Linked DNA regions of Homo sapiens: region 2 is linked to region 1. Evidence: fine-mapped expression QTL. A gene starts in region 1. The other region holds a variant in brackets. All regions are shown on one strand. Distances are between the middles of the regions. Region 1 holds the start of KCTD15 (potassium channel tetramerization domain containing 15). Region 2 has its middle 31 kb from the start of KCTD15.

Region 1 (5,365 bases):
CCCTTTCTACTGCTCCTCCCCAGAGGCACTCAGTAACTCTCCTCTGTGCCGTAGTCACCTGAAATAAGATTGTCCCTCAGTCCCTGGAAGCCACACCCAGGGGCGCTTTGCAGGCCCTATGCAGGAGGGGCAGAATTCTGCAGCCCCGTTCACTGATTTACAGCTGTCTCAAAAGGGAGGAAAGAGGAGATTTGCACGTGAATAGTCACCCCCCTTCACACATCCACAGACACTGGCTTCCACAAACCTACCCTGGACGTCTCTCGAAGGTTTAACCTTTAAGAGAGAAACCACTTGAAATTCTTGGGACCCATGGGATTGCTTTTTCCCATTAAAACTCTGGGATCAAAATTTGTGCCTTGAAATTCAATATCCAATTTTAATCCAACCAGAATCAAATCCTGCAAATGTAAGCAAGGTTGCTCTCCCTGAGTGCCCGGGCAAGTTTCCTGACATAAAACTGGGGTGGGAGGTTGCAATGGGCAGACAGTGATGTTTAATATATACCCTCACTGGGGCCTGTGGACTCAGAATCCACTGCTTTTGGCATTCCTGAGTTCTACAAGCTTAAAAAAACAAAACCAGGTCACTTAGCTCAAGGAGTTCTGAGAACCAAAACAGACCTCAGGAATGGATTATCCTGCCCTAGGAGGCTCTGCTGGGGGAGGAGTCAGAAGGGAAGACGCGCTGAGGATAAACTGAACAGGAAGGAATTCTGGCTGAAATTCTATCAAAGCGGACTGCAAGATGTTTTCCCCAATACCAGGACACTATTCCAAAGTGACGTGAACACCAAGCCTCCATCACAGAAGCCGCTCCACTCTGTTCTTAGCCCCTTTTCCCTCCCAAGAACAACCTGATGTTCATGGCAAGCCAGAAACTTACCGTTGGAAGCCCCAGGCTTTACGCCTTGCCGTGAATCTCCAAGGTTTCTCCCAACAAGCGCATCCGTGCGGGACCACGACCCTCTTTCCGAGACCACTGCTTAAGTCAGAAGCACAAAAGTGGGTGCAGTGAGAGATACAAGTTCATTCCACCAGCACCAGCATCAAACCCAGCACCCAGCCCCAGTGCGCCCTGGCCCGCCTGTTGCAGGGGCCTCAGCGATAGCGGTCGGGAGGGCCCACAGGTTTCCAAACTGGCCCGGTAGTGACCCGCTTCTCCAGCTGCGGCGGGAGACCCGGGTCCCTGCCCGCCCGCCGCCGAGCCCCGCCCGCCCGAGCAGAGAGAAGTGAGCAGAATGCCACGCTCATTTACACACAAAATGATTTTGTGTCCCATTGCGCTCGCAGTTGTTCGGCTCTCTGGGGGTGATTAAACTGGCTGAGCTGCGGCAGCTTGAGACGATTTCACTAAATCGCTTCTTCTGAAGTCGCTTCTTTGCTAAGCTGTTATTTTAACCATAAAAGGTAAACAGAAGGCGCCTCTCGAGCTCCCCTCGGCTCCGCACTCAGGGCGCTGGCCCGGGGCGAAAGTCCTGGGGGCCTGCACAATTGTCCCAGGGGTGGCCCCGGAGAGGCAGGCGGGCCACCTGGTGCGCGCCAGCCTCCCCACCCCCCCCCTCCCGCCTCCGCCGCGGAGCCAGCCGGCCGGTGTGAACTTAGGGGCGACGGGAGAGGGCTTGGGCCAAGGCTGGAGGCGCCGCGGGGCGGGGTGGCCGCGGCACCCGAAGCGCGGGGCTGGGCTGGGAGGGGTTGCCGCGGAGGCGGGGCGGGGACAAAGTTAAATCAAGAGGCAGACACTTGGAGACCACAGATGGGAAGCTCGCCTAATTAAGGACGTAAAAGCGCTTTTGTTCTCAAAGTTTATTGTTGCCGGGATTAAAAAAAAATTAATTGAAACTAATGCTGTTATTCACTCGTGCAGTTAAATTCCTTCATGCACATTTGAGATACGGAGCGAAAACTTGAAGCTTATCTTTCTGCAGTCGCGGGTGGGGGCCGCCGGAAGACAGAAAGGCGCTGCAGAGGCGGGGGTCCGCCCCCGGGTGTGTTTGCGAGTGTGTGCCGGGTGCGCGCGTCCAGGTCAGGGGGTGCGGGCGGGCAGCGGGGAACCGGATCTGCAGGCGGCGATCCCTCCCATCGCGGCCCCTCTCCCAGCCCCAAACCCTGCGCGCCCGGGACCACCACCAGCGCGACAGCCCCTCCTGCCAGGTTTCGGACTCGTGGGGTGGGCGTCAGAGGACGCACATCTGTCCCACTGGAGACTTTCTCTGATTTTGGGCGCCAAGCCGGGACTTGTGCATCCCGAAGCCCCAGTTGCGTGAGCCCGTTTCTGACCCCGGAAACTCGCCAGCTCTGCAGGGCGCTCGGCCCAGAACAGGGGCCAGAGTGCGGGGACCTCCACAAGCGCGCGCGCGCGCGCGCGCACACACACACACACACACACACACACACACACACACCGCGCGGCAGGAAGCTCCGAGACCGCCCGCGTGGGGAGGGTCCACCCGCGGCCAGGACCAGCCCACGTGGGCAACCCCACTCTTGCACCAGGCCTTTGTGCTGGGCACCCCCGCGCCGCCAGCCCCCGCCGCCCAGCAGAGGGACAAAGCGGCCGCCCCCGCCCAGGTCCAGACCCTGGCCGGGCGACTTTCTCGGTATCGCAGCCACTTCGGGGCAGGGTTGCGCGGCTCTGAGCGGTGGCCGCCCGCGCTGAGCTTACCTCGGAGCCGGCAGATCGGGCTCGGGCGCAGCCCCCGCCCCACGCAGCTGCCGGTCTCGGGCGCCGGGCGCAGCTTCGCCGCCTATGCTCGCTGCGCGGGTCGCTCCGGTCTCGTCCTGGAGTTACTTTCTCTCTCGCCCCCAACCCTCCCCCCACCCACCCCTCCCGCCCCGGCCCCCGCTTCACGCGGCCCCTCGCGGCGCGGCGCGCCGGGGCCTCCCCTCCCCACCCTCCCCTCGCCTCCTCCCCTCTTCGCGGCCGCCGCCTCCGCCGCCGCCGCCTCCTCCTCGCGCCGCTCTCCGGCTGCCCTCCCGCCGCTCCCACCTCCTCTCCTCCCTCCTCTCTCTCCGGCGGCCTCCCTCGATTGCTGGAGAGAAAACCAGCCCCCCACTCCAGCCCCTAGCCAGCGCCTCGCCGCGGCCCAGCCCGGACGTAAAGGGCAGCGATCCGGCCCCAAATTACCCAGCGCGAACGGGCGCGCGCGGCGACTCCTGGCTCGGGGCTCGGCTGCGCCGCGGGGCAGAGGATTAGAGTCGCAATTAGCTCCGCGCGCCCGCGCCTGGCGACAAAAACGCGCCGTTTCCCCTCCTTTCGCCGGGCGATCCCCACCCGCCTCTCCCGAAGCCCGCGCCTTCCCGCCGGGGCCGCGGCCAGGACCCTCCCGGGAGCGGTGCGCCCAGGCCCCAGCGCCCTCCGCGGCCCAGCCCCCCGCCCCCCGCCGGCCGGCCACGCGGCGCCCGGGCCTCCTCCGGGCTCGGGGAGGGGGCGGGGGAGAGGCTGATTTTAATCATTGTCATTTCATCTGATGTAATATTTCCCCGGGCGCTTTCAGCTGGGCATAAATTTTCGGCTCCCAAATAAGTAACACAGGGCACGTTTCTCACATTTCTTGACTCCTCGGTTACAAAGAGGAGAGCAGCCGCCGCCGCGGCGCCCGGGGCTGGGGGCGGGACTTGGGAAGAAACTGGGCTGCCAGTCGGTCGGGGCTGGAGCGGAGCCGGGGGCCAGGCCGCCCCTCCCCCGCTCCCTGGCCGCCCTCCCAGGGTCTCTGCCCCGCTGCCCCTCTCCCGTGACGTCTGCGGACACGCGGTCGGCCGCCGCGGGGGAGGGACGCGCTGGGGCACCGGGCCGACCGCTCGCGGCTAGACGCGCCATTTCCTTTACGCGCGCGGCGCGATGGAGACGGCGGCAGCCAAGACTCCCCGCGGCCGAGGTCCGCGCCCCGGACGCCCCTCCCCAGTCTCCGCTTCGGCCGCCCCTTCCTCCTTTTCTCCCACTCCCACTCCTCCTCCCCTTCCTCTTCCTCCTGTTTCCTTTGCGCCCCGCCCGTGCCTCCTCCTCCTCCTCGGCGACCATTTCCCGGCTCCTAGGAAACGGAGCGCGCGACTGGCCGGCACTGCGCCCCCGCCTGGCTCCAGGGACGCCCGGGCCGGAGACCGGCTGGGACCGCGGGGCGGGTGCGCACGGGCCGGAACGGCGCCTGGGTCCCGACCGCCGGCTCCGGCCGGGCCTGGACGCCCCCTAGCGGCCGCACTCCCGGGGTGGGGGGCGCTCGGGGTCGGCCTGGAGCTGGGGTGAGGGGGACTCGGGGTGCCAGTGGGAGGAAGGTGAAGTGGGGGGGGCTTTCTCCCTCTACTAGAGGACCTCGCGCGCGTGGAGAGAGCGTCCAGACAGCGCTTCCGTAACTTCTTTACGCGGGAATCAGCCGAAACTTTCCTCCTAAGGGAAGGTTTTATTTATTTATTTATTTTCGAGTTCGAACTACAGGAAAAAGGGGGAAATTTTCTCATTAAAGTTACATCCCTGCAGTTAGTTCAATTATTTGATATATGCAGAAGATGTTGTAAATTTATAGATTTAAATAGCTTACAAAGATGCCGCAGGCCCCATCAGTTAATTTCCTTAATTTATGGATTTTGAGCTGCTCCTGGAACAGAAAGAAGCCCTGGAAGTAGGTCAGGGATCTGTGCAGGGGTTGGGAGGGGCTCCCGCGAGGCCCAAGGGCTGCCCACTCTGCTCCCTACGCCCCGGTACCTCCGGGCTTCCAGCTCCCAGCTTCGGCTCAGCAGCGCGCTCTCTGCGCGTTCGGCACGCTGGCCAGGCCCGGCCCGGCCCGAGAGGTCAGCCCAGCTTTGTGGCCGACTGTCCCAAGCACGACATAGGAACAGCAAAGCCCTCCATCAATGCACATCCCACTCAGCATTGAGGGACCAGACACAAATAGAAAGTGAAGCAAGTATTCAAATACTTTGATCTCCTGTATCCACCCTTAAATGCTGGCTAGAATCACAATCGGACGAGGTTGTGTGTGTGGGTGCCCCCAACTTCATGGACAGAAACGTCCTCCCCCGCCCCAGGCCTTTGTGGAGGGTGGAATGAGGGAAGGTGGAGCAGGCTTGTGTTGGAGGATGAGGGACTCACTGAAAATCCGCTTGTCATGGCTCCTGTGGCCCCCAGCGCCCCTCACACCTCTTTTGTCCCTCATCCTAGGTGGCTGCGGTAACGCCTTTGTTTCGTGTTCAATCTGGGTGAATATATACATATAAATTAATACTTGAAAGATTGGTATAAGCGAAACTGTTTTAGGAAGCCACATGGCAATGTGATTAGTATGGGTATTCATGATTTAACATTTATTTTCCCACTAGATGAAGTTTCTAAGATTTGCAAGGTACATGTCAAGGACGGGTGTATAAATGGA
Region 2 (5,365 bases), 31 kb before region 1:
TAGAAAATATCAGCCCAGCCCAAATTGAGGGACATTCTACAAAATAAGTGGCTTGTAATCATCAAAAGTGTCAAGGTCATGAAAGTCAGGGAAAGACCCAGGAACTGAAGAGATGTGACTGCTAAATGTGTTGATCCTGGGCTGGATGCTTTGCTACTAAGGATGATACCAGGGCAATTGGTAAAATCTGTATGGGTCGGAAGAGCAGGTGTTAGTAATGCAGTTGTGTGGTTTCCTGGTATTGATGACTGTATGTGGTTACGGAGGGGAATATCCTTGTTTGTAGAAAACACAAGCTATTTTGGGGGTGAAGGGGCATCATGTCAGTAACAATATGAAATGGTTCATCAAAAAATAGTATTGGGCTGGGTGCAGTGGCTCACGCCTGTAGTCTTAGCACTTTAGGAGGCCAAGGCAGGAGGCTTGCTTGAGCCCAGGAGTTTGAGACCAGCATGGGTGACAGAGCGAGACTCCATCTCAAAAAAAGAAAAAAAAAAGAAGTTTTGCTTCCTCCAATATTGATAATAAAAAATCACAATTTTGGATCAATCACTCTAGAGGAAATGCAAAATTGCTTTTCTATTCTCTCTATAAAAACATATATTATTGTTGCTATTTGAAGAAGTGATCAGGGTAGACAGCTAAATTATGTAGGAAGCGTGTTACATCAGCCAGTTGATTAATAATATAGGAATGAAATACTAATATGGTATTGTTCTGAATTTTGTGATGTTCATAGTATTTTATTATTTTATTTTTTAGAGCTAGAGTCCTGCTGTGTCACCTAGGCTAGAGTGCAGTGGCATGATCAACAATTCACTGCAGCCTTGACCTTCTGGGCTCAAGGGATCTTCCCTACTTGGCCTCCAGAATAGCTGGGACTACAGGCATGCACCACCATTTCTAGCTAAATTTTGCTACGTTGCCCAGGCTGGTCTTGAACTCCTGGGCTCAACAATCCTCCTGCCTTGGCCTCCCAAAGTGCTGGGATTACAGGCATGAGCCACCATGCCTGGCCATTTTGTGGTATTTTAAATTTGTATTATGTTGTGACTTTTCTCATTCTAAATAAATACTTTTGTTCATGGTAAAACCAAACAAAACAGTTTTGTACTGTCCTTGCAAATTTTTTTGGTAAATTTGTGATTGTTTCAAAATACACCAAAATTAATTAAAAATATTTTATCAGATAATTTTCCATCAAGTGTGGTCCATTCTTGCTTCCATTTCTCTCCTGTTCTCTCTTTCCTCCCACCCTGCGGTCACTCCTTCTCCAAACCCTCTGCTGCACCCTTCTTCCCTCTCCCAGCTTCCAAACACCGAGTGCCCGGGGCTCATCCTGGAAACCTCTTCTTTTTTTTTTTTTTTAATGTGTGTGTGTGTGTGTGTGTGTGTGTGTGTGTTTTGAGATGGAGTCTTGCTGTGCTGCTCAGGCTGGAGTGCACTGGTACGATCTCGGCTCACTGCAGCCTCCGCCTCCTAGGTTCAAGAGATTCTCCTGCCTCAGCCTCTTACGTAGCTGGGATTACAGGTGCCCGCCACCATGGCAAGCTAATTTTTGCATTTTTAGTAGAGACAGGGTTTCACCATGTTGGTCAGGCTGGTCTCGAACTCCTGACCTCAAGACATCTGCCCGCCTCATCCTCCCAAAGTGCTGGGATTATAGGCGTGAGCCACCGCGCCCAGCCAGTCTCTTCTCTTTTGACACTTACTGCCTTGGAGACCTTATCCAGTCTTGGCTTTGAATGCTGTCTAACTTGTGAGGACCCTCCAACGTACACCTGCAGCCTGGACTCCCTCCTGAGTTCCCAAGTACCTGCCTGTCTCCCAGCCCAGCTTTGTCAGTCCTGTGCTTAACAGGCATCTCAACAGCCTGCCCCATCTGCCCAACACCATCAATCTTCTCATCCCAGCAAAAGGCAACTCCATCCTTCCTTTGCTCAGGCCAACCCCCTTGTAGCCACCCTAGACACCTCACTGCCTCCCACATTTCACATCTAAGCAGGCATCAAGTTATGTTGGCTCCTCCTTCCAAGTGTACCCAGGATGGAACTGCCTCTCCCTACTCCCACGTCTCTCACCCTGCTCCAGGCCACCTTCAGCT[C/T]GCTCTGAAGGATCATGGTCGCATCCAACTGGTTTCCCTGCTCCTCCCCAGCCCCCTTCAGTCTATTTCCCTCCTCTGCTCACCACTGGGCAGTGGCCACTGCTCTCAAGCTCAGGAAAAGCCCAAGTCCTGGCCTGGCGCAGTGGCTCACGCCTGTAATCCCAGCGCTTTGGGAGGCCAGGAGTTCCAGACCATCCTGGCTAACACGGTGAAACTCCATCTCTACTAAAAATACAAGTAATTAGCCAGGCATGCTGGCATGTGCCTGTAGTCCCAGCTACTGGGGAGGCTGAGGCAGGAGAATCAGTTGAACCCGGGAGGCAGAGGTTGCAGTGAGCCGAGATCATGCCACTGCACTCCAGCCTGGGAGACAGAGCGAGACTCCGTCTCAAAATAAAAATAAAAATAGAAGCCCAAGTCCCAATCACGGTTCATGGCAGTGTTTTAGATTGGGATGCTCCAGAAGCTGATGCCGAGACAAGACCTTGAACGCAGCATTCACTGGGAGGTGATTCCTGGTATATAGGAAGAGAGAGAGGGAAGTAAGACAGGGCAAGGAAGGAAGCCAAGAGAGGGAAGGCTAGTAAGGGAGCTACTTGTCTGGGCACGGCAGCTCATGCCTGTAATCCCAGCGCTTTGGGAGGCTGAAGTGGGAGGACCACTTGAGGCCAGGAGTTTGAGACCAGCCTGGGCAACATAGAAAGGCACCTCCACCTCTGCAAAAATAAAAATTGGCCAGGCACAATGGCTCATGCCTGTAATCCCAGCACTTTGGGAGGCAGAGGCTGACAGATCACTTGAGGTCAGGAGTTTGAGATGAGCCTGGTCAATGAGTAGAGATGGCAAAACTCCATCTCTACTAAAAATACAAAAATTAGCCGGGTGTGGTGGTGCACATCTGTAATCCCAGCTACTTGAGAAGCTGAGACACGAGAATCGTTTGAACCCGGGAGGTGGAGGTTGCAGTGAGCTGAGATCGTGCCACTGTATTCTAGCCTGGGCAACAGAGCAAGACTAGGTCTCAATAAATAAATAAATAAATAAATAAATAAATAAATAAATAAATAAATATAAAAAATTACCCAGGCATTGTGGCATGTGCCTGCAGTTCTAGCTGCTAGGGAAGCTGAGGTGGGAGGATCGCTTGAGGCCAGGAGTTTAGCTTTACAGTGTGCTATGATCTACCACTGCACCCCAGCCTGGGCAACAGAGCAAGACCCTGGCCCTTAAAAAGTAACAAATGAGGCAGGGCATGGTAGCTCACGCCTCTAATCCCAGCACTTTGGGAGGCCGAGGCAGACGGATCACCTGAGGTCAGGAGTTTGGGACCAGCCTGGCCAACATGGTGAAACCCCATCTTTACTAAAAATACAGAAATTAGCCAGACATGGTGGCGCATGCCTGTAATCCCAGCTACTTGGGAGGCTGAGGCAGGAGACTCATTTATACCTGGGAGGCAGGGGTTGCAGTGAGCCAAGATCATGCCGTTGCACTCTAACCCCACTGGAGGCCCCTGAGAGAGCCTAGAGCAGACCTCCCCATTGTCAGACGCAAAAGGCAAGACACCTGGGTGTTTATTTGCCATCTCCACAATAGTAGAGAGCTAAGGGGGCATTGACTTCCTGGCCTGCCCCACGCATGAGGAGCTGTTGCACTCCTCACCAACAAAGACCCTCAGGCAGAGAGCTACAGGAGCAGTAGGAAGCCATAGGGTCTGTGTGCACCTGAAGGCAAGTGCTAAGGGGAAATGGGTGGAGTACAGGCAACACGTTTTTCAAAGACCCTACATGATCTGACTTCCCTCCTACCCCAGGCACCCCTGCGACCTCACCTTCTGCAACTCCCCAGCCCCTCACACTCCAGCCACATAACCTCCTTCTTGCGTTTCTGAGACACATCATGCACACTCCTACCTCGAGGCCTTTGCCTTGCAGCCCCTTTGCCCCAAATGCTCTTCTGCCAGAAATCTGCATTTCTCCCGCCTTACCTTCTTCTTTTTTGCCGGGGGCAGGGATGGAGTCTCGCTCAGTCACCCAGGCTGGAGTGCAGTGACGCCATCTTGGCTCACTGCAACCTCTGCCTCCGGGGCTCAAATGATTCTCCTGCCTCAGCCTCCCGAGCAGCTGGGACTACAGGTGCAAGCCACCATGCCTGGCTAATTTTTGTATTTTTATTTTATTTTGTTTTGTGATGGACTCTCGCTCTGTCGCCCAGGCTGGAGTGCAGTGGTGCCATCTTGGCTCACTGCAACCTCTGCCTCACAGGTTCAAGCAATTCTCCTGTCTCAGCCTCCTAAGTAGCTGGGACGACAGGCGCAGGCCACCACGCCCAGCTAATTTTTGTATTTTTAGTAGAGATAGGTTTTCACCATATTGGTCAGGCTGGTCTTGAACTCCTGACCTCAGGTGATTTACTTACCTCGGCCTCCCAAAGTGCCGGATTACAGGCGTGAGCCATCCCGCCCAGCCTCCTGCCTTACCTTCTTTGGGGCTTTATTTAAATTTTACATGCGGCTCAGCGAGGCCTTCCTGGTGAAAACAGACAGCACTCGCCAATTAATAAAGTACTATTGGCTGAGCATCCCTAAACTGAAAATCTGAAATCCAAAATGCTTCAAAATCTGAAACTTTTTGGGTGCCACCCTGATGTCACAAGTAGAAAATTCCACAGTTGACTTCATGTAATGGTTTGGAGCTAAAACATGAGCACACAACACACAGTTTATTCACTGTCTCCAAGGAATCAAAGACTTCCCAGCTCCCATCAGCAGCAATATGTCTTTTCCACACTCACCCAGATCCCCACATAAGCACGCCCACAAAGCGTAATAAAACAGCACGTGTTCAGGCTGGACGCACCAACGGCAGGTTCCTCACAATGTCTCACGTGGGGCCAAGACATTACTCATATATATGGTGTATGTGTATGTATGTGTATATATATGCATGATATATATATATATATATATATATATATATACCATGCATATATATATATACCATGCATATATATATATATATTTATATATATACCATGCATATATATATATACCATGCATATATATATATATATATTTATATATATACCATGCATATATATATATATATATATATATATACCATGCATATATATATATATACCATGCATATGTATATGGCTGGGCACAGTGGCTCACATCTGTAATCCCAGCACTTTGGGAGGCTGAGGTGGGTGGATCACCTGAAGTCAGGAGTTCGAGACCAGCCTGGCCAACATGGTGAA

The links. PIP is the estimated chance that this variant, and not a neighbour inherited with it, causes the effect. A credible set is the group of variants that fine-mapping cannot tell apart.
Region 2: its variant is the best candidate, but not a certain one, in a credible set for the expression of KCTD15 in whole blood (INTERVAL, PIP 0.74).

What each region holds. Positions count from the first base shown.
Region 1 is chr19:33,794,287-33,799,651 of GRCh38, reverse strand. KCTD15 (potassium channel tetramerization domain containing 15) reads right to left here and starts at 2,782. Exons shown (of 7, transcript NM_001129994.2): 1 at 2,665-2,782; 2 at 886-984. RefSeq lists a silencer at 4,084-4,203 and an enhancer at 4,849-5,358.
Region 2 is chr19:33,825,308-33,830,672 of GRCh38, reverse strand. No RefSeq gene overlaps it. Among named protein-coding and RNA genes, the nearest start is that of KCTD15, 31 kb to the right of the region's middle. The variant C/T (reference allele first, on the strand shown) is at 2,105.